Linked DNA regions of Homo sapiens: regions 2, 3 and 4 are each linked to region 1. The links come from fine-mapping of genetic effects on gene expression. A gene starts in region 1. Each other region holds a variant in brackets. All regions are shown on one strand. Distances are between the middles of the regions. Region 1 holds the start of CFDP1 (craniofacial development protein 1). Region 2 overlaps CFDP1 (craniofacial development protein 1). Region 3 overlaps CFDP1 (craniofacial development protein 1). Region 4 overlaps CFDP1 (craniofacial development protein 1).

What was found. PIP is the estimated chance that this variant, and not a neighbour inherited with it, causes the effect. A credible set is the group of variants that fine-mapping cannot tell apart.
Region 2: its variant is the best candidate, but not a certain one, in a credible set for the expression of CFDP1 in visceral fat (GTEx, PIP 0.52).
Region 3: its variant is the best candidate, but not a certain one, in a credible set for the expression of CFDP1 in thyroid (GTEx, PIP 0.55).
Region 4: its variant is the best candidate, but not a certain one, in a credible set for the expression of CFDP1 in tibial artery (GTEx, PIP 0.75).

Annotation. Positions count from the first base shown.
Region 1 is chr16:75,431,620-75,436,459 of GRCh38, reverse strand. CFDP1 (craniofacial development protein 1) reads left to right here and starts at 2,957. Exons shown (of 7, transcript NM_006324.3): 1 at 2,957-3,171. The coding sequence starts at 3,108. LOC124903723 (tigger transposable element-derived protein 1-like) reads right to left here and starts at 1,256. Exons shown (of 1, transcript XM_047435019.1): 1 at 240-1,256. The coding sequence starts at 1,158. The coding sequence ends at 361. RefSeq lists enhancers at 2,351-2,918, 2,462-2,971 and silencers at 3,282-3,521, 4,778-4,840.
Region 2 is chr16:75,369,242-75,374,081 of GRCh38, reverse strand. The region is part of intron 5 of CFDP1 (craniofacial development protein 1); the gene reads left to right. Among named protein-coding and RNA genes, the nearest start is that of CFDP1, 62 kb to the left of the region's middle. The variant T/ATTAT (reference allele first, on the strand shown) is at 2,739.
Region 3 is chr16:75,292,870-75,297,709 of GRCh38, reverse strand. CFDP1 (craniofacial development protein 1) reads left to right here. Exons shown (of 7, transcript NM_006324.3): 7 at 3,668-4,000. The coding sequence ends at 3,758. Among named protein-coding and RNA genes, the nearest start is that of BCAR1, 44 kb to the right of the region's middle. The variant T/C (reference allele first, on the strand shown) is at 2,508.
Region 4 is chr16:75,306,671-75,311,510 of GRCh38, reverse strand. All of the region lies in intron 5 of CFDP1 (craniofacial development protein 1), which reads left to right. Among named protein-coding and RNA genes, the nearest start is that of BCAR1, 57 kb to the right of the region's middle. RefSeq lists an enhancer at 3,373-3,873. The variant G/A (reference allele first, on the strand shown) is at 2,563.

The DNA of each region.
Region 1 (4,840 bases):
GACCTTGTGATCCGCCCACCTCAGCCTCCCAAAGTGCTGGGATTACAAGTGTGAGCCACCGCGTCCAGCCTGTACAACCTTTTCATTGGCACACACAGAGTACACACATATAGTTCCCATATACAGTCAACAGTATAACATACTGTACAGTTCCCACAGTAAACACATACACTACTTTGCACACATACTGTATACCCTACAGTACAGCAATACAAATAAAGGGAAAAAGTTCAAAGATGGAGCATCCTAAGTTTTATAAAAATATCAACTAAAATCTTACGGTTGATGGAGCTGCACAATGTGGTTAAACCTCTCGACCTTGGCTTGCCCCACAGAAACCAGGGGAGGGGTGAGTGAAATTTATTCTGCAGAAGAGGAAGAGGGTGGCAGGTCAACCTCTGGCATTTCTACCTTAGGAGTCTGGCTCTTGACACTTGTTGAAGGAGTGGGCAATCTTCCCTCCCAAACTGGCTTGAGAAATTGCATTAGCCTTGCCTGCCTGGCTTTTCTGCCTGAAATCTTTAAGCATCTCGGTATAAGGGGCAAACGCAGTGGAGGCCAGCCATTTAAATTTGAGGCTTCGATCAAGCGTAGGGTCACACTCTTCCATGTCGCTAAAAATTTTTTCCAAGGCAGAACTCCATTCTGATATTTTGGCGCTGTGAGAGGGACAATTCTGGAAGTCTTGGGCCGACTTTCATGGCCATCAACTCCAATGCCTTCTTTTGCCATCTCATCCAGGTCTTCGTTGGTTGGTTCCACTGCCTTCTCTGCCAAAATGTACTCCACATCTCCTTCCTTCACGTCATCAAAGCCCTCTCCACTTACCTGCTGTGCCATATGCATTATGTCTCTGACAGTGTTCTTTATATTTTCTGTAACACCTTCAAACCCTTCAAAATTCTCCACGCAGTCTGGCCAAACATTTTCCCAACAGTTATTGGTAGTAGCCTGACCAATGCTCTCCCAGGCTGTACTGACATAATCAATAACGTTGCATGTAGTGACCGACTTCCAATAGTCCAGCATGGTGGTTTCCTTGTTGGTCCTGAGAGCCTCACAGGCCTTCATATAAAGCTCCCTTGTGTAGTGTGCCTTGAATGCTTTTATTATGCCCCGATTGAGGGGTTGGATGAGAGACTTAGTGTTTGGGGGCATAAAAAGAACTCCTATGTTGGCGTGTGCATTTTCGAGTTCTTTGCAGCAATGGATTGTAGCATTATCCAAAATTAACAAAACCTTGAAGGTGCCCGGCGCGGTGGCTCACGCCTGTAATCCCAACACTTTGGGAGGCCGAGGCAGGCGGATCATGAGGTCAGGAGATCAAGACCATCCTGGCTAACACGGTGAAACCCCGTCTCTACTGAAAATACAAAAAATTATCCAGGCGTGGTAGTGGACGCCTGTAGTCCCAGCTACTCGGGAGGCTGAGGCAGGAGAATGACGTGAACCCGGGAGGCGGAGCTTGCAGTGAGCCGAGATTGCGCCACTGCACTCCAGCCTGGGCGACAGAGCGAGACTCCGTTTCAAAACCAAACCAAAACAAAACAAACCCAAACAAACAAAAAACAAAACAAAACAAAACAAAAAACCCTTGAAGGCAAGGTTTCTGCCCTGGAGACAGTGTTCAGCTTCTGGGATGAAGCAGTTGTGGAACCAATCAGACATCATCCACACTTTTTTGTTCCACCTCCAATAGACTGGCAGATGGTTCACGTATTTCCCGTTAAGTGCTTGTGGATTTTGGGTTCTTTACACCATTAGGAGTTTGCACTTTAGTCGCTCTTGGCATTGGCGCACAATAACAAGGGTGCATGATCCTGGCATGATTTAAAGCCAGGGGCTTTGGAGGCCGTTTGCATTATATAGGTTCGTTTGCCAACATCCTTGTAAAATAAGCCAGTCTCATCCGCATTGAAAACCTGCTCTTTCACATAACCCTTTTCCTGTATAACACTTAGCAAGTATTTTTAAAATTCTTCCGCAGCCTCCTGATCTGCAGAGCTCGCCTCACCTGCAAGTTTAACATTTTTCACCCCGTATCGCCTTTTGAAACGCGCGAGCCGGCCAGCACTCGCCGAGAAGGGCTTAGCATTTCTTTGACTCTGGGTAACGTGACCACAGATATCTTTGGCTTTCAGCCTCACCACAATGCTGTCCACTATGTTTTTTTTAATCGATTGACATCTCATGAATCCACAAATTTAGCCGCTTTTCCATCTTTTCCATCTTTGTCATAGCTTCATCACGCACGATGGAGGTCACTTCAGCACTATCCGGAGCGGCCTCACGGACAGATCGGTGAATTTCCTTTTCCTTTTTCTTGATGTACCGGATTGTCGACTCGTTAACATTGAGCTCATGGCCAACAGCACTGTAACTCATGCCTGATTGGAGCTTATCCAACACGCGGACTTTCTCCGTAAGGCACATCACGGTCTTCTTTCGCTTAGGAACACTGGGCAGAGCTTAAGCACTACGCTTGGGGGCCATTTTAGAAAGCAAAACCACCCACAAAAAGCAGAAAAAAAAGTGTCAGTAAACAGACTGCGGAAAGGACTCTTTGTTTACAGCACAGGAGCTGCGACTAGAAGGCGGCGCTTCTCCCAGTTCAAACTTCAGCTGGGAACCTTACCTCCGCCAACTCCAAATTTTCACCCTCTGCGCATGCCCGGGAAGAACCCCAGACAGTACCGTGATGATTGATTTTAGGGTTACAAATACATTTTAGCAAGTAAGTGAATTTGGCATTACGAATTAATGATTAATGAAGGTCACCTGTATTTCCATAGATATGTAATTTTATTTAAGCAGGTTTATTATATTAAGGCGGCGAGGCAGCGCCGAAGACTACAAGTTCCAGCATGCACCGCGTCCGGGCGGGTTCGGGCTCCCAGCGAGGGCTTCAGGGACGCCAGCCCGGAGGCATCGGCCGGAAGTGTCGTAGGGCAACCACGTAGTACTCTCTGCGCATGTGCAAAGCGCTGTCGGGGGCCGCCCTAGCTGCCGTCGCCGCCGCCGGGGCTCTATGGTCTCTCCCTAGAGCTTTGCCGTTGGAGGCGGCTGCTGCGGTCTTGTGAGTTTGACCAGCGTCGAGCGGCAGCAACATGGAGGAATTCGACTCCGAAGACTTCTCTACGTCGGAGGAGGACGAGGACTACGTGCCGTCGGGTGAGCGATTCCGCCTGAGGCGAGAAGCGAATTGCCCCGCCCCACGCCTCACGTGAGGCGCGCTCTGCCCCCGCGGGCGTCTGCCCTGTGGCCCAGGTGGTCCAGGGGGGCTCCTGTTCTCGAGCGTCCGCTCCCTCAGGCCCCTCATCCTCGGCCGCTCCGGCCCGAGGCGTGTGCGCGTGGCGGTTCTGTGCTCCCCTCCCGTTGGGCAGCTCCGGCCGCCGCCCCCTCTTGCAGCGCGGGAACCGGCACATGGACACGGCCCCTTGTCGCTAGGGACGCTCGTCGGTCAGCCCCGAACGACACCGCTGCTTCAGAAGTCGGGGCGGCAGTCCGAGCCTTGGAGGTTTTTTTCAGCCCTGGCCCGAGAGAGCTGCTGGCCACCACCCCGTCCAAGATAGAGCTGTCCGCTCTCCGCCTGGTTGTTAGAAAGTTCTGATAGAAAGTTCCCCCTTTGATGCTTTTTGCCTCATTGTGACGTCCACCCATCCTCTCCTCTCAGAACTTTCTTTCCTTAGGGATCTCAACCCGAACGGGGTGAGAATGAATCTTACTGAAGAAATCTTTCTGTTCCCCCTTCTTGGTCTTCCCCAGACAAACCGTCTCGTTGAAAGTATCTTCACCCATTCACATCTTCAGTTGAAAGACTAGACAAACAAGAAACAAACAGACTAACAAAACACAACCCAGGAGTCGTCCCTATTCTCTTTGTTTTACTTTGTTCTGTTCTGTTTTATTTAAAGACAGGGTCTTGCTGTTGTCTAGGCTGGAGTGCAGTGATGCGATCTTGGCTCACTGCAACCTCAGACTCCTGGGCTCAAGCGATCCTCCCGTCTCAGCCTCTGGAGTAGCTGGGACTGCAGGTGCAGGCTGCCACGCCCGCTAATTTTTTAAATTTTTTTTTTTTTTTTTTTTTTTAGAAATGGCATCTTGCTATGTTGCCCAGGCTGGTCTCGAACTCGTGGGCTCAAGTGATCCTCCCACCTCAGCCACCCAAAGTGCTGGGATTACAGGCATGAGCCACCGCGCCCCGGCTAGTGAAGTATTTCTAAAAGGCACGTTGAAAACTAGCCATTCCATTCCTGGCGCGGTGGCTCATGCTTGTAATCCCAACACTTTGGGAGGCTGAGGTGGGTGGATCACAAGGTCTGGAGATCGAGACCATCCTGGACAACATGGTAAAACCCCGTCTGTACTAAAAACACAAAAATTAGCTGGGCATGGTGGCACGCGCCTGTAGTCCCAGCTCCTCAGGAGGCTGGAGCAGGAGAATCGCTTGAACTCGGGAGGTGGAGGTTGCAGTGAGCCGAGATCACACCACTGCACTCCAGCCTGGGTGACAGAGCGAGACTCCGTCTCAAAAAAAAAAAAAAAAAAGTTAGCCAGTCCCATCACCCTCATCCCTATTTTATTTAATATTCCTCAGGAGAAACTTCTTTCCACCTTTTGAATTTGGTATTATATTTCTGTTGTCTATTGATTTAACCCATGTATAGTAGGTATCATTTTTAGTAGCCCCTGACCTCCTTCCCCTCATCCCAAACACACACACAAACACTTCCACCTTCGGGGCCTCCCCAACTCCGTAGTCTGCCGTTGAACCTGTGTCCAGTTTTAGTTAGATCAGTATTCAGTGTTTTTTTTTCTTTCGAGACAGTGTCTCGCTCTG
Region 2 (4,840 bases), 62 kb after region 1:
GGGATTTCGTCATGTTGGCCAGGCTTGTCTTGAACTCCTTACCTCAGGTGATCCACCTGGTTTGGCCTCCCAAAGTGCTGGGATTACAGGTGTGAGCCACCGTGCCTGGCCAGTTCTATAATTTTCAAAACTAACTCCCTATACAGACATTTAGGTTTTTTATCATTTTCTTTCTGAGAAACAGTATGTTTGTAAAGATTGCCTCATGTTTAGAAAGATGATACAATTCCTACCAGAATTTTTTTCTCAAATGGAAATGCTTATTACAATTAGGATTAGTAAATTGTGTAGAGGAAGTCAAGGCTTCCCTTGTAAAGGACAAAATGGCTTCGTATCTAGAGCAGAATACAGTCTTGTAGCCAGGAGTTTCAGACCAGCCAGGGCAACATAGGGAGACCCCGTTCATACCAAAATAAATAAATAAAAATAAAAAGAATACAGTCTTTAGGGAAGCAAACCCTTTGAATACAGTGTGTATCTCTAGCTGAAATTCAAACTGTGCCTCTCTTTTGTTCATGATTAGTTACACAGTGAGTTTAGGTAGAATGGGGGGTGGGCAGGGGTCACAGAGAAAAAGAATCCAGCGTTGTGTATCTTATCTTAGCGACATTTATATTACCCACCATGTGAAAGTTCTTTTGAGAAGCTTCCCTCTCCTCCAGTTATTTTCTTTTTTAGTACAAAACAACCTTTTTAATATTTATAAAACTTGGTATAAGGCCAGTCATTTTGTGGGAAGAAAGTCCAATACGATAATGAATCTATGAGCATTAGCAAGAATGAATGAGATGAGATTATTTAAATATACTTTGGCTAATTTAACATCTGTGTGTGTAAGTGTTGAAATGGGTCACCATGTTATTTCCAAAAACGTGGCTTGGGAATTATGCCTTCTTTTCACTTAGCACATGTAACTGGATAAACCGAGACTTAAGTAGCTTTTAGGGGAAGGAGGGAAAGTAGACAGATGGGAGTAGCTGCTCCAGCATAGGTGTGTCAAGCAAATTGTCACCCTTTTATCTCTGGGCCAGAGTTGTTTCAGTTCCTGCATCAGGAATCAAGTGTATGATCTGCTTCCATGCCGGGGAACTCCTTTAAAACAACAAGATGTTGAATTTTTTTCTTTTACAGTTGATAAAGTTAATTTCCCTTTTCAGTTAGCAGTTTGCCTTTAGAATTTTGGAACTAAAATATTCCTTGCTAAGGCTTTTATTTTCTCCTCCCTCACATGTACTCTGGGTTATTTAGGATTTAAATTAGACATTTAAAGGGTATGTATTTGTGTGTGCGTGCATTTTCTTTTAACTGTGAGTGACAGCAATACCAGGAGAAAAGTTAATACTCCATCTTGCCAAAAGATGATGGTTTTATTTTTCTCTCATGAAACAAAACCTGGGAGGAAGAGTTGAATGAACTTTGCAAACAGTTGAGCAAGTAGATTGGCTTCCAGACTAAACCCTGGATTGAGGTACAGCTAGAATAACTCACTTAGGTTTTCTGTTTATTCTTTCAGGAAGAAGAAATTTGATGCCTAGAGATTGATCTGCTTTTTGTTTTTAAGTTCTAGTTCTGGTTCGATTTCAGAACCAGTCTGCAGGCAACTCTGCATTGTCTCCTTAGAGAACTGGACAATTCCACTGATCTGGATCCTTTGGCAGCAAGCTGACATTTTATTGAGGCTGGTCAGCACTCCTGGCCAGAGTCTTGAAATTGTGGGTGTGTTTTTGCTGCCCATTGTTGAGTTATTCATGAACAGATATGAAAACCATATATATCCGAATTTTGTTACCACTAGATGTGATGAGTTTTTCTTTTTGATTATTTGGGGATTCTTAGTTCTCTGTCAAACTCTTCAGATTAAAACCCTTCTTATAGCTATTACTTTGGACTTCTTATATTTTACAGTATAGGGAAGAGAAAGCTGTCATGGTTATTGCTGGCTCCTTTTTTAGAAATAGGTAGAGTATTATATATGCTTTTGACTTGAACAGGATTGCCTGGTGCAAATAATAGTTTTACTTAATTCTTTTAGCTGTAAAATAGGGATCATAATTCCTACTTCATAGAGCTGTTTTGAGAATGAAATGAGATAAGGTGTCACTACAGTTCCTGGCACAGAAGGACTCAATGAAAATTAGTAGTTTTTCCCTTTTCCCTATTTTAAATAACAAGGTTGATCTTCACTTACTAGTTCGTATTAGGACAAGGAAATTATAAAATCATCAAGGAAACAGTAGACTTAACAAATAAATGAAACTTAAAACTATTAAAAACGTATATAGATTTAATCAACATTTTCATCCTCTTCCTACTAAATGAAACCTTTGAGTTGGAGGAGAATACACCAAGACTGAAATTCACTTACTTTTCTTTCCTCTGATTATTCTAATATGTAACAAAACACTTGAGAGGTTCTCAGAAAAGACCAAGAGATTCTTCCTATGAATGTTAGGCTATAGTAATATTTTTATGTACTAAAATATATAAACCTGTTTTTAGAAAAGAGCCTGAATTAGCAGAACAGGAATTTCCCAACTACAAAGGAAGCTTAACCAAAACGCTTAAGGTTAGTTTTTAAAAAACATTTGAATATATAAGAACTTTGTTCAGTTTTTTTAACCTCGCCCCCCATTCAGGTTTCTTAATCTGCTTTGACATCACTATTTTAATCTCCACAGTTTTATTTACTTAAGACATTAGCCAGTGTTTAATCATCTTTAGAGAGAGATATATAATTA[T/ATTAT]GAAATTGTATCATATTATGTTGACATTACTTAAAATGTTTTAACTTGTATTTGTCCTAGGGGACTTTTGGCAGTGTCTAGAGACATTTCTGGTTGTATAACCTGGGCAAGGCAGGGGATGCTACTGGCATTTAGAGGGTAAAAAGTTTGAGATGCTGCTAAACATCCTGCGGTACAAAGGACAGCTCGAAACAAAGAATTGGCTTATTCAAAATGTTAGTAGTTCCCAAGTTAAGAAACCCTGCGGAACACTACAGTGAAGTCCACATGAACATGTGATAGTTTGTTTTTTACAATTCTGGAATTGGCTTTTTTCTGCACTTGGCACAGTATATGCTCATATAGGGCATATTTGATAAATGAATAAACTAACAAAGTGAGATAGATCCCAACCTGAATTTTGTAGTAAGCAAGTCCTTTTGCAAGTGAGTTGATTTCTGCAAATGGATCTTTAAGTTTTTTTTAATTCTTTTTTTAAATTTTTGAGACAGTCTTGCTCTGTCACCCAGGCTGGAGTGCAGTGGTATGATCTTGGCTCATTGCAGCCTCTGCCTGCTGGGTTCAAGCGATTCTTGTGCCTCAGCTTCCCAAGTAGCTGGGATTACAGGCACATGCCACCACACCAGCTAATTTTTGTATGTTTAGTAGAGACGGGGTTTTGCCATGTTGGCCAGAATGGTCTGGAACTCCTGACCTCAGGTGATCCGCCCTCCTCAGCCTCCTAAAGTGCTGGGATTACAGGCGTCAGCTACTGCACCCTGCCACACATTATTATTATTATTATTTTATTATACTTTAAGTTCTAGGGTACATGTGCACAACGTGCAGGTTTGTTACATATGTATACATGTGCCATGTTGGTGTGCTGCACCCATCAACTCATCATTTACATTAGGTATATCTCCTAATGCTATTCCTCCCTCCACATTATTTTTAAAATAGAAAAAATTTGGCCGAGCGTGGTGGCTCACGTTGGTAATCCCAGCACTTTGGGAGGCCAAGGTCAGTGGATCACCTGAGGTCAGGAGTTCGAGACCAGCCTGGCCAACATGGCGAAACCCCATCTCTACTAAAAATACAAAAATTAGCTGGGTGTGGTGGCAGGCACCTGTAATCCCAGTTACTTGGGAGGCCAAGGCAGGAGAATCACTTGAACCTGGGAGGCAGAGGTTGCAGTGAGCCAAGATTACACCATTGCACTCCAGCCTGGGCAACAAGAGCGAAACTCTGCCTCAAAAAAAAAAAAGTAATAAATAATAGAAAAAATTCAAGGCCAGGCATGGTGGCTCACGCCTGTAATCCCAACACTTTGAGAGCCGAGGTGGGCAGATCACTTGAGGTAAGGAGTTTGAGACCAGCCTGGACGACATGGTGAAACCCTGTCTCTACTAAAAATAATAATAATAATAATACAAAAATTAGCTGAGCTTGGTGGTGCAGGCCTGTAGTTCCAGCCACTGGGGAGGCTGTGGCATGAGAATCGCTTGAACGTGAACCTGGGAGGCGGAGGTTTTAGTGAGCCAAGATCGCTTCACTGCACTCCAGCCTGGGTGACACAGTGAGACTCTGTCTCATAAACAAATAAATACAGTAAGTAAGTAAGTAAAGTGTTGGTCAAACAAAAGGAGGCCAGTTTGGAAACTCTGGTTCCTTAACCTGCTGTTGAGACTCTGAGCACTAGAGAATAATCTGGTCTTACTTAGTTTTCTTTGTTTCTGGTAGACAGATTTGCAAATTGCTTTTCCAGTTTCATCAGAAGAAACAAGTGTGGACACATACGTCTCTGTCAATACACTGTTTAGATTATTGGAGAATAAATAGGCAACCTACTGCGAAGCCATGTGTCTAAATGTATATAATAGTTAAAGCAGAAGCCTGCATCTAGCTAGAATTCTGTATAGCAGTGTGCGGGTTTTTTGGCTTTTTGTTTTTTTGTGGGTTGTTTTGTTTTTGTTTTTTTTGAAGCGAACTTTTGCTATATTGCTAAGGCTAGTCTTGAACTCCTGGGCTCAAGCAATACTGCCTTGACCTCCTAAAGTGCTTGGATTACAGGCATGAGCTACTGCGCCTGGCCTGCAATATGTATTTTAAGCTACTTTTTT
Region 3 (4,840 bases), 140 kb after region 1:
GAAAGTGAAGAGCCTCTTAAATGGGCCACAGAAGGCAATGGAAGCAGAAAGGGATGATGCATCCCCCACCACTAGGCTTCCCTGTGGACTGGGCTGAGTCATGCTGGGCCCCCAAAAGGGCTGCGCACAGGCCAGAAAAGCACCCGGACACATCAAGAGCAAGAGCCGTGATTCCCATTGCACTTGTCCTCAGGTGGGTCTGTTCTGGGACCGTGACCCATTTAAAGTGCATGAAAATGTCCTGAGTCTCAGTGGCCACCTTTGAGGAGGTGGCCTTTCTAATGAGCCCTTCCTCTTTCAGGGACATTTAGTCTCTTGGTCTCTGTTCCGGTTGCCCTGGGTTTTGAGGTTCTGTAGAGGTAAAGTCAAGTCAGAAGAAATGTGAAGCAAGACCGGGCAGAGTGGCTCACGCCTGTAATCCCAGCACTTCGGGAGGCTGAGGCGGGCAGATTACTTGAGGCCAGGAGTTCAAGACCAGCCTGACCAACATGGCAAAACCCCATCTCTACTAAAAACACACACACACACACACACACACACACAGACACACACACACACACACAAGAAATGGGAAGCAAGAACCCCAAGCCCATGACAACTCCCATAGCTATTTTTTGTTTTATTGTATACAAAGCACTTCTCACAGTTTCATTGGATTGCCAGAGGGTTATTGTAATTGTTATTCTGTTTTACAGAGAAGGAAAAAAAGGCACAGAAAATTAAGTATCTTGCCCAAAGTCACACAAAAACTAAATGTCAGAGCTACTGTCATTCTTAGTACCTTTTCTGTCTCTTGGCAGTGGGAGAGTCCATATCAAGTAGTTTTGTTCATGGTCAGCTCTTGGCAGTAAACCAAGGCCGTCACAGGCATCCTGTTAGCAGCTGCAGATGGCTGTGAATTGGGGAATAGTCACCAGACCTGCCTTGATGGCCTTTGTCTGGGTTGCCCTTGAGAATTCAGTTGCATCCTGCACATGTTCCCCTCACTGCTGCCTGAGGCCTCCCTAAACCTAAACTCTGACTGCACCTGCCTGTTTAGCACCCAACCTGGGCTTCACTCTTGATAGTCTCAAAGTCAGCTGGACCCAACACAGCTTCTGGGAACGTGCAGGACCTTTATTCGTACCCAGTTAGCATCCTCATTTAAGTGTCACTTCTTATTTACAGGAAAGTCAGGGCTGGGCCCGATGGCTCTCACCTGTAATCCTAGCACTTGGGAGGCCAAGGTGAGGATCGCTTGAGCCCAGGAGTTCGAGACCAGCATGGGCAACATGGAGAGACCCTATCTTTACAAAAGATTTAAAATTAGCCAGGTGTGGTGGTGTGTGCCTGTGGTCCCAGCTACCTGAGAGGCTGAAGCAGGAGGATTGTTTGAGCCTGAGAGGTCGAGGCTGCAGTGAACTGTGCACCACTGCACTCCAGCCTGAGCCACAAAGCAAGACCCTGTCTTAAAAAAATAAAGTCAGGAAGAAAGACCCCAAATGCTTAAAGCCACATACTTACTCCTTCCCTCCACCTGATCTCCCAGACAGGTAGCACTGGAAGATGGCTCTTGAAACACACCCTAAATTCCTCTTACACCCCCAGGTGAACAACAGCACAGCAAGATCTCATGCTGAGGCTCACCTCTCTTTTTTCTGCTAGCACTTCCAGGGGACAGTTAAAGTGCAGTGCTGTCAAAATCCTGGTCCCCGTGGTAGTGAGCCTCCCTTGGGCTGGTGGGGCTGGGGTGGAAAGATGACCAGTTGTAGTGAACGTGCCTCTGAGACCATTTTGGTTAGCAGCCCCCACTCAAGAATCACGGGTCTCTTAGTGGGAGGTGGGAAGTAAGTTTGTTGTTAGATGTCTACACTTCCCTACCTGTCTTCCCTTTTTCTCTTTTTATCTAAAGGGGTCCATGCTGTCTGCAGCTTCCCTGACTGCCAGGGACTCTGAAGTTCGAATTCAGCCAGGCAGCCTGTAATTTTATTTGTTAAATCTGACAATCCTGACCCCAAGGGCTTTTATCAAACCTAAGAGCAGGCCCTGTCATTGTGTTTCCAGCCATTCTGGCCTCATTGACGGTTTTGACACAGCAGCTTAGTACCTGAGCCAGACCAGGTGTTTTGGTTCCTCATTGCTGAAACCATAAGTCCAGACTTGGGCCATCTACTGTCCTTGGGAGCCTGTTGGAAGCTGGCTTCCTAAAACCATGATAACATTACCTGTCATTTTATTGAGTACCTGCTCTGTGCCCTGTGTGATGTAGACACTATTTTATTTAATCCACACAACAGTCCTTCAGAGTGGAGATGACTAGCCATTATTTATTATCTTTATTACAGATTAGGAAACAGAACTAGCAAGGTTAAGTGACTTGCAGAGTCACAGACAGCAAATGACAGAACTCAAACCTCCAGCCCTCTGGCCTCAGAGCCTGTACATTTCTGGCCAGCCCTCCAGAAGGGTCAGGGTAGTCAGGCCTAGCTGGAAATGAGGTAGGATGGATGGTACTTCCTAGGATGCTG[T/C]TGGAAGGGAAAGCAAGGCCCTGGACTCAGCAGGGGAACACAGGTTTCTGAACCTGGTAGCATTCTCACTATAAATGTAATGACTTTGTAATGACAGATGCATATTTTCCACAGTGCAACAAAAGAAAAATTAGTGCAGAGATTCAATTTTGTCTCCCATTTTCCATGGCAATTTTTGCTCTCTCCATAGATTAATTAGCAGCAGAGATCTCCTCCGCCCAGGCAAATCGCAGCACGCTTTATGGTGAGGAGGTGCATTAAGATGCAGCTGTGTCTCATTAAGCAGCCAGCCTCACTCCTAGCAAGCGCGCCTGTGCTTCAGCCCTTGCTGCTTTCCCGTCCTGCCTGGAGGACAGAGGGAAAGTTTGCTGAACCCAACCAGATTAGGGAGCAGAGTGTCCACCTTTCAAGGGGATCCTTGAAAGGAGAGATCAGAGGCCCTTAAACTCATTCTCTTAGAGGCATTTAGGGAAAGAGTTCTCCTGTCATCTTAGCAGAAGCAACCTAGACGCAAACAGGGTGGAGGATACTGCGGAGAGGAGAAAAGGATGAGGGGAAGAAAAGAGCTCAAAGCAGTTAAATCACTTCTAAAGTGTGCACTTTATGAACCTCAGCTCACTTCACCTTCACTGCAGTCCTGTGAGGTCATTTTTACTGTCTTCTTTCCTTCATTACCACATGCCCCCTTTTCATGTTTTGATGTATGTATGCAGGAGGCCTAGCTTTCTCTTACCCACCAATTCAACACACCACTAAAGCCAAGAAAAACAGCATCACCATGCTGCTGTAGAGAAAAGTGAGGCTCAAAGATGTTCATTCCTTTGCCCAGCTAATCAGTGAGCTAGAGCTAGGACTTGAACCCATGCTTGTGTAAACCGGTATTCTTTCTTCTGCCCTTAAAGTCTTGTTAGAAAATTGCAACATCTTCCTGCCACCCAGCCTCTAATATACTTTCTCATTGATAAGCTGTTGCCTTCCTTTTATTTTCACCATCCTTGTTTAGACCAAATGTGAGTGGTTTGGATTGTACTGGAAGAGTCATGGGTGGTCACTCTCGGCACCATTTACTGTAACTTAGTTTATCCCTGGGGGATGGGACTGTGCAGGGGAGGAGTTTTTCCTACTGGATTCTACTGACAAACACTGTTTTCATCTTCTAGGTACATTGAACGGAAAGCCTTCCTTGACCGAGTGGATCACAGGCAGTTTGAAATTGAGCGAGATCTCAGGCTGAGCAAAATGAAACCTTGATGTTACGGGCTAAATCAAGAGCAGCTTAATCCTGTTTACAATGTGAGCTTTTTGTGCGTCTGTGAAATGTTTTACAGTGTTTCTCATCATCTGTTTCCCAGCAAGGTCTTTTTTTTTTCTACATTGAAGTTCTGTCTATGTATCTTAATCACAAATGGTTTCATTCACTTTACTTTTAAAAATTTGTCCTTAAATGAATAAATAAAATAAAAGTTGGTCCTGTGAGAGGATAATGAAGATGACGACCTCGCTCACCTTCCCTTTATTCTGCCGCAAAGTCCCACCCAGTTCAAGACAGCACATTCCAGGTCTGTCCAGGCTGGCAGAGGTCTTGCCAGGCATGGTGAAGATAGCTGACCAACCTGGGTGTGAATTTTCCGGGGCCAAGAGGCTCTTTCTGCAGCCAGCCTTGCCCCGAAGACCTAGAGGAGGCGGCTCACTAGAGTGACTGGAATGCCAGGCCCCTTCGCAGCTTGTTCTCATTTCCACTCGGGCTTCTCTTCTGATCTCTCTTTCTCCTGAATGGATTCCTACTGATGGCATGTAAGGCTGAAAATAAGGATATATTATTGCTGAATTAGCTGTTTTTTCCCTTCAGCCTTTTTCCTCTTCCCAAAGAAAAGTTAAATTCAGATATGCTCCCACTTCAATAATTCATTAATTTTTAGTTTGTCAAAGAATATTCTGAAGGATTTTCTTTTTTATACTCATAAGAAAATGTAAATTTCAAACTTCCTGCTTAGAGTCAGACATTCTTTGCAGAACAGCAGGGAGGAGAGTAAGAGAGTAACATCTTCAGTGAAGAGGGAAAGAGGGATAGAGACCATTCATATTAATAAGCGGGAAACCCCACAACCTGCTTCTGGTGTGTGTGCCTGCATGTGCATGTGTGTTACCCGAGTACCATGACAGGTTTGGGTGATGACAGGTTACCTAAGACTGCATTCCATTTCTTGCTGTACCAGCTTTGTGGCCCTGACCACAGGTCATTTTTCTGTGCCTCCATTTTCTGGTCTGCAAATGGCATGAATAACACTAGTACCTCCAAGGGGTGGAGTAAGCTAATGACACACCCGTCGGGT
Region 4 (4,840 bases), 120 kb after region 1:
TTGTTATGAGAAAAAGTGTTTGGGTAAGTCCATTGTCAAATAATGAGGATTTAGTACATTAAAAATGTAGTAGATTGGGCATAGTGGCTCACACCTGTAATCCCAGCACTTTGAGAGGCCAAAGTGGGATGATTGAGGCCAGGAGTTCGAGACCAGCCTGGGCAAAATAGCAAGATCCCTGTCTGTACAAAGACGTTTTTTAAATTATCTGGGTTTGGTGACATATGTCTATAGTCCCAGCTACTTGGACTTAAATCTAGCACCAAGCAAGGTGGAAAAGACAGTAGTCTGGGCATCAAAAGCACTGAGTACTAACCCCAAGTCTCCTGCTATAAACTTGGGCAGGTTTCTTAACCTTTTGGAGTTTAGTTGACTGATCTATAAAATAAGGAGGTTGGACTAAACATCCCTTCAGCTCTTCTTTTGTGCCCTCATAATATGTGGTTACAGTTTGCCTGTATGTTGATCTGTCCTCCACTAGATTTTTGTTTTGAAGCCGAAAATTAAGCTTTGTATATTTTTATATCCCCATTCTGAGCACAGTGTCTGGTAGAGAGTAAGTTCTCAGTAATCTCTGTTGAATGAATGCAATGAATGAATGACTCTGAATTCCTTTCCAAAGCTAAAATTCTATTCTGTGAAACAGCTGGGTACCTGGGGATGATTTTAAAGATCTCCGGGAAAGATCTTCTACCATCCTTCACAAACAGTTGGTAAGCCCTGTCAGCCTTTCCACTTGGCAAGTTACTCTCCCAGCTCCTTTCCAGTACCTCTTTTAAACAAACAGCAGGATCCCGGGCATTGCTGAGGGTGGTCAGATAGAACAGTGCTCTTGCTACAAAATAAATCGGTTGGACAAATCCAAGTCAATGCTGGTGGACATGGAACAAAGTAAACAAGTTACCATAATATCTCTGTGACAGACTCAACAGGATGAAGTTTATTGTTTAGTTACAATGACATTTTTGTTAAAATTACATTTCTTTTGCTAAAGAGAAGCAGAATAAGTTCTAGAAAATTATCATTATAAACTTTGAACCTAGAAAAGAAAAAGATGACTTGTCATTTTACATTCTGTGTCTCTTTTACTTTTCTGAGTTTCTTAATCAAGGTCTTGGTTGGTGTCTGGTGTTATGATAGGTCTTGGTTTGGCATGGTGGGAAGGGAGTTGATAATTGCTGATTGATGGATAACTGAACAAAATATGCAAGAAAGATAAGCTTGGAAAATAAGTGTCTCTTTCACCAGTATGAGCTGCACTCAGCCACTCTCTCTTATGGCATGGAAGCTGGCTGGTGAGAGCAAAGTCCACACTCCTTGAACAGTATTAGTCTTTACATCAAATTTATGGTAGTAAGGTCAACAAAGTCATGTGATGTTCAGGAGGAGGTGGTTGCAATGTCATTGTGACATTGGAAACATCTTGGTAATAACATTCCAGAATGCCTCAGCGTAACATTTGGGATGTAATCTGGGTGAGCAAGTGCATGGTGCATTTCTTTGAACTTTGACTTGCAACAGGTGGGTGAGGAGTCTCTTGACTCAATGAAGTACTGTTGTCTGGAGAGTGGTCTGTTAAAGCAGACTTTCTGGCAGTACCTTGCCCTATGGCTTAGGATAAAGAACAAAGAAACCAGTGGTTCTGTTGGTCTGGAACTGGATTGGTTTTTTTTTTTTTTTTTTTTTTTTTTGAGATGGAGTCTCACTCTGTCACCCAGGCTGGAGTGCAGTGGCATGATCTTGGCTCACTGCAAGCTCCGCCTCCTGGGTTCACGCCATTCTCCTGCCTCAGCCTCCCAAGTAACTGGGACTACAGGCGCCTGCCACCACGCCCGGCTAATTTTTTGTATTTTTAGTAGAGACGGGGTTTCACCGTGTTAGGCAGGATGGTCTCGATCTCCTGACCTTGTGATCCGCCCGCCTCGGCTTCCCAAAGTGCTGGGATTACAGGCATGAGCCACAGCGCCCGGTTGGATTGGTTCTTGATGAAAACAAATCTCCAAGGGAATTCTGACTTCCCCATTCTACAGTTTTCCAATATACACAGCTGCCAGATGCCTGGAGAGCCAGTGCTGATTTGTCCCCTGCTAGCCATAGTTCTCGGAGGTGCGTGGCTGAAGTAGGCTTTTCTGTGTTCTTTCTCAGAATAGGGTCAGCGCCCCCTGCCCAGAGACTGATTCTCTCCCGCCTCGGCTTCCTGAAAGCCTGGTTCATGTACCTTTGTGGCAGAGAAAGCGGCAAGGTCACAGTAAATCTGCCTTTCTGAAAGCTGTGCTGAAATGACACCAGGATTAGGACACTGAAACCCCTCTCAGGGTGGGAGAGTGAGTGGGAGGGCTCAGAACCCTGAGGGAGCCCACAAACAGGTTCTAGGAAGAAGCTGCTGGTCTCCTGGTTATCATGAGCCCCCTGTGTGTTCTGGCTGCTGCTATCAGTGTGTCATTCACTTTGATTTAGCCTCAAATAAAAGACAGATTATTTTGCTTTAGAGACTATCACATTAGGACATCTTACACCTTGTTAATGACCCAGTGAAAGGAGAGTTGGAAGCCTTCCCCAAAA[G/A]CATAATAGCACAGGTGACATTTTACTGATGTTTAATGGTGAGCAAGGCAAAGGGGTATTATGGTTTTTTTCCTTTTCTGGAAACCTCACTGCTGTGCATCAAAAAATCAAGTTTCTCATAGACTTCTCAAAGTAATTCGTCAATAAGATGGCCTCACCCAGGAATACCACTGGAGCTGTAGGCTGAAGGGGAGAGGTGGCGTACATAGCTTGTGGTGCTGCCCAAATTAAATGGGGAACCTTGGGCTGTTGAGAGCTGATGGGAGAATAAAAGTGAATTGTTCCCCTTAAAATCTCCAGTGTAGAAGCGCTCTAAAGAATACTTAGTTCTGCGAATATCTGATTCTCTTCCATGAATTGGTTCTGTAATCCAGGTGACGTTGTTGACTTAATTGAGTGCTCACTGTTCACAGAACTCTATCAATGGGTAGAGAGGTTTGGAGACACAGGAACTTAAATAGCCACAGAAAGATAAAGATTACACGAGGAAAATAATTTTTCTCCTAAAATCCTTAGTTAGAGTCCCCTCAAAGCAGAACATAAGACAAGGATTTTGAGTGCAGGGAGTTTATTTGGGAAGTGATCCCAGGAAGCAGGTGTGAGTGGTGGAAAGAATGAGACAAGGAAGGAGGAAAAGTCAATATAAGAGTACAATTCCAAGGCCACGAGGGCTTGATGCCACCAGAACTTCTGAGAAGCATTCCACCTCCTATAGCTACCTTGTGAGGGTAGGAGGCTGGCCGTTTAACCACCAGCTTTTGTGTTCCTTCAGGCTAGCCCCAATGGCTTGAGCTCCACCACCTGTCCAGGCAGTACTTGTGGCATGCAGGCAGGCTCAGAGGAGACCCTGCAGCCAGAAATGGAAAGTCCTCATGCGTATGCTTTTGGTGGGGTGTTGTCAACAGTGAGTCTGCACTTGCCCAGAACCATCTAGTGCAGCTGCAGCTGAAATAAGAGTTCACAAGCATCTAAAGAAAAGATCAGTGTTCCCATATGAAAAGAACTGGTATGATAGAAATACCACCAGGGACACCTAATCTAGAGGTTAGGGAAGGCTTCCTGGAGGAAGTGGTTTTAAAGCTGAGATAAGGCTTAATATGGTGGCTTGTGCCTATAATCCCAGTACTTCGGGAGGCCAAGGCAGGAGGATTGCTTGAGTCCAAGAGTTTGATACCAGCCTTGGGCAACATAGCAAGACCCTGTCTCTACAAAACATAAAAAAGATAGTTGAACGTGGTGGCACACACCTGTAGTCTCTGCACCTCAGGAGACTGAGGTGGGAGGATCACTTGACCCAGGGAGGTTGAGGCTGTAGTAAGCTGTGGTTTCACTGGTGTACTCTAGCCTGGGTAACAGAGTGAGAACCTGTCTCTAAAAAAGTAAATACATAAAAATTTATTTTAATTATTATGTTTTAAAAAGGGGTCAGTGGGCCTGGGCGCAGTGGCTCACACCTGTAATCCCAGCACTTTGGGGGGCCGAGGTGGGCAGATCACCCGAGGTCAGGAGTTTGAGACCAGCCTGCCCAACATGGCAAAACCCCGTCTCTACTAAAAATACAAAAAATTAGCCAGGTGTGGTGGCAGGCGCCTGTAATCCCAGCTACTTGGGAGGCTGAGACAGGAGAATCGCTTGAACCCGGGAGGCGGAGGTTGCAGTGAGCCGAGATCACGCATCTGCACTCCAGCCTGGGCAACAAGAGAGAAACTCCGTCTCAAAAAATAAAAATAAATAAAAATAAAAAGGGGTCAGTGAAGAGACATTTAAGCAGAAAGACATGCTAAGCTTTGTGTTTTGGAAAATTCAGTCTAATTACAGCATGTCACTAGATACCAGGATAGGGCCACTGAGTGAGGATGGGGAAAAACAGGTCAGGGAGACCAGTAAAGAGGCTGTTCAATTATCCAGGTGATATAAGAATGAGAATTCGGGCAGTAGCAGTAAGGAAGATGAGAAGGAAAAAGATTTGAGACACAGTAAGTTTCCATATCCCCACTCATGCTCCGTTCCTGGTAAAATGGTGAAAAAGAAAGTGTGTGTGTGTGCGTGTGTGTGTGTGTGTGTGTGTGTGATCACGCGCACATATGACATTGTAGGGGTTGAGTTGTCTGGAAAACAGTGCTTAGAAGATATGAATTGAAAGCTCATAAAGAGCTATTTGGAGTTCTCTTAAGCAAACTGGGAAGTAAAGTAACTAATGAGAAAATCTCTCAAGTCACTTCTCATCTGGAGGCGAGATAGCACAGTGCACCACCCTGAGAGTTGGGAGAGATCTTCC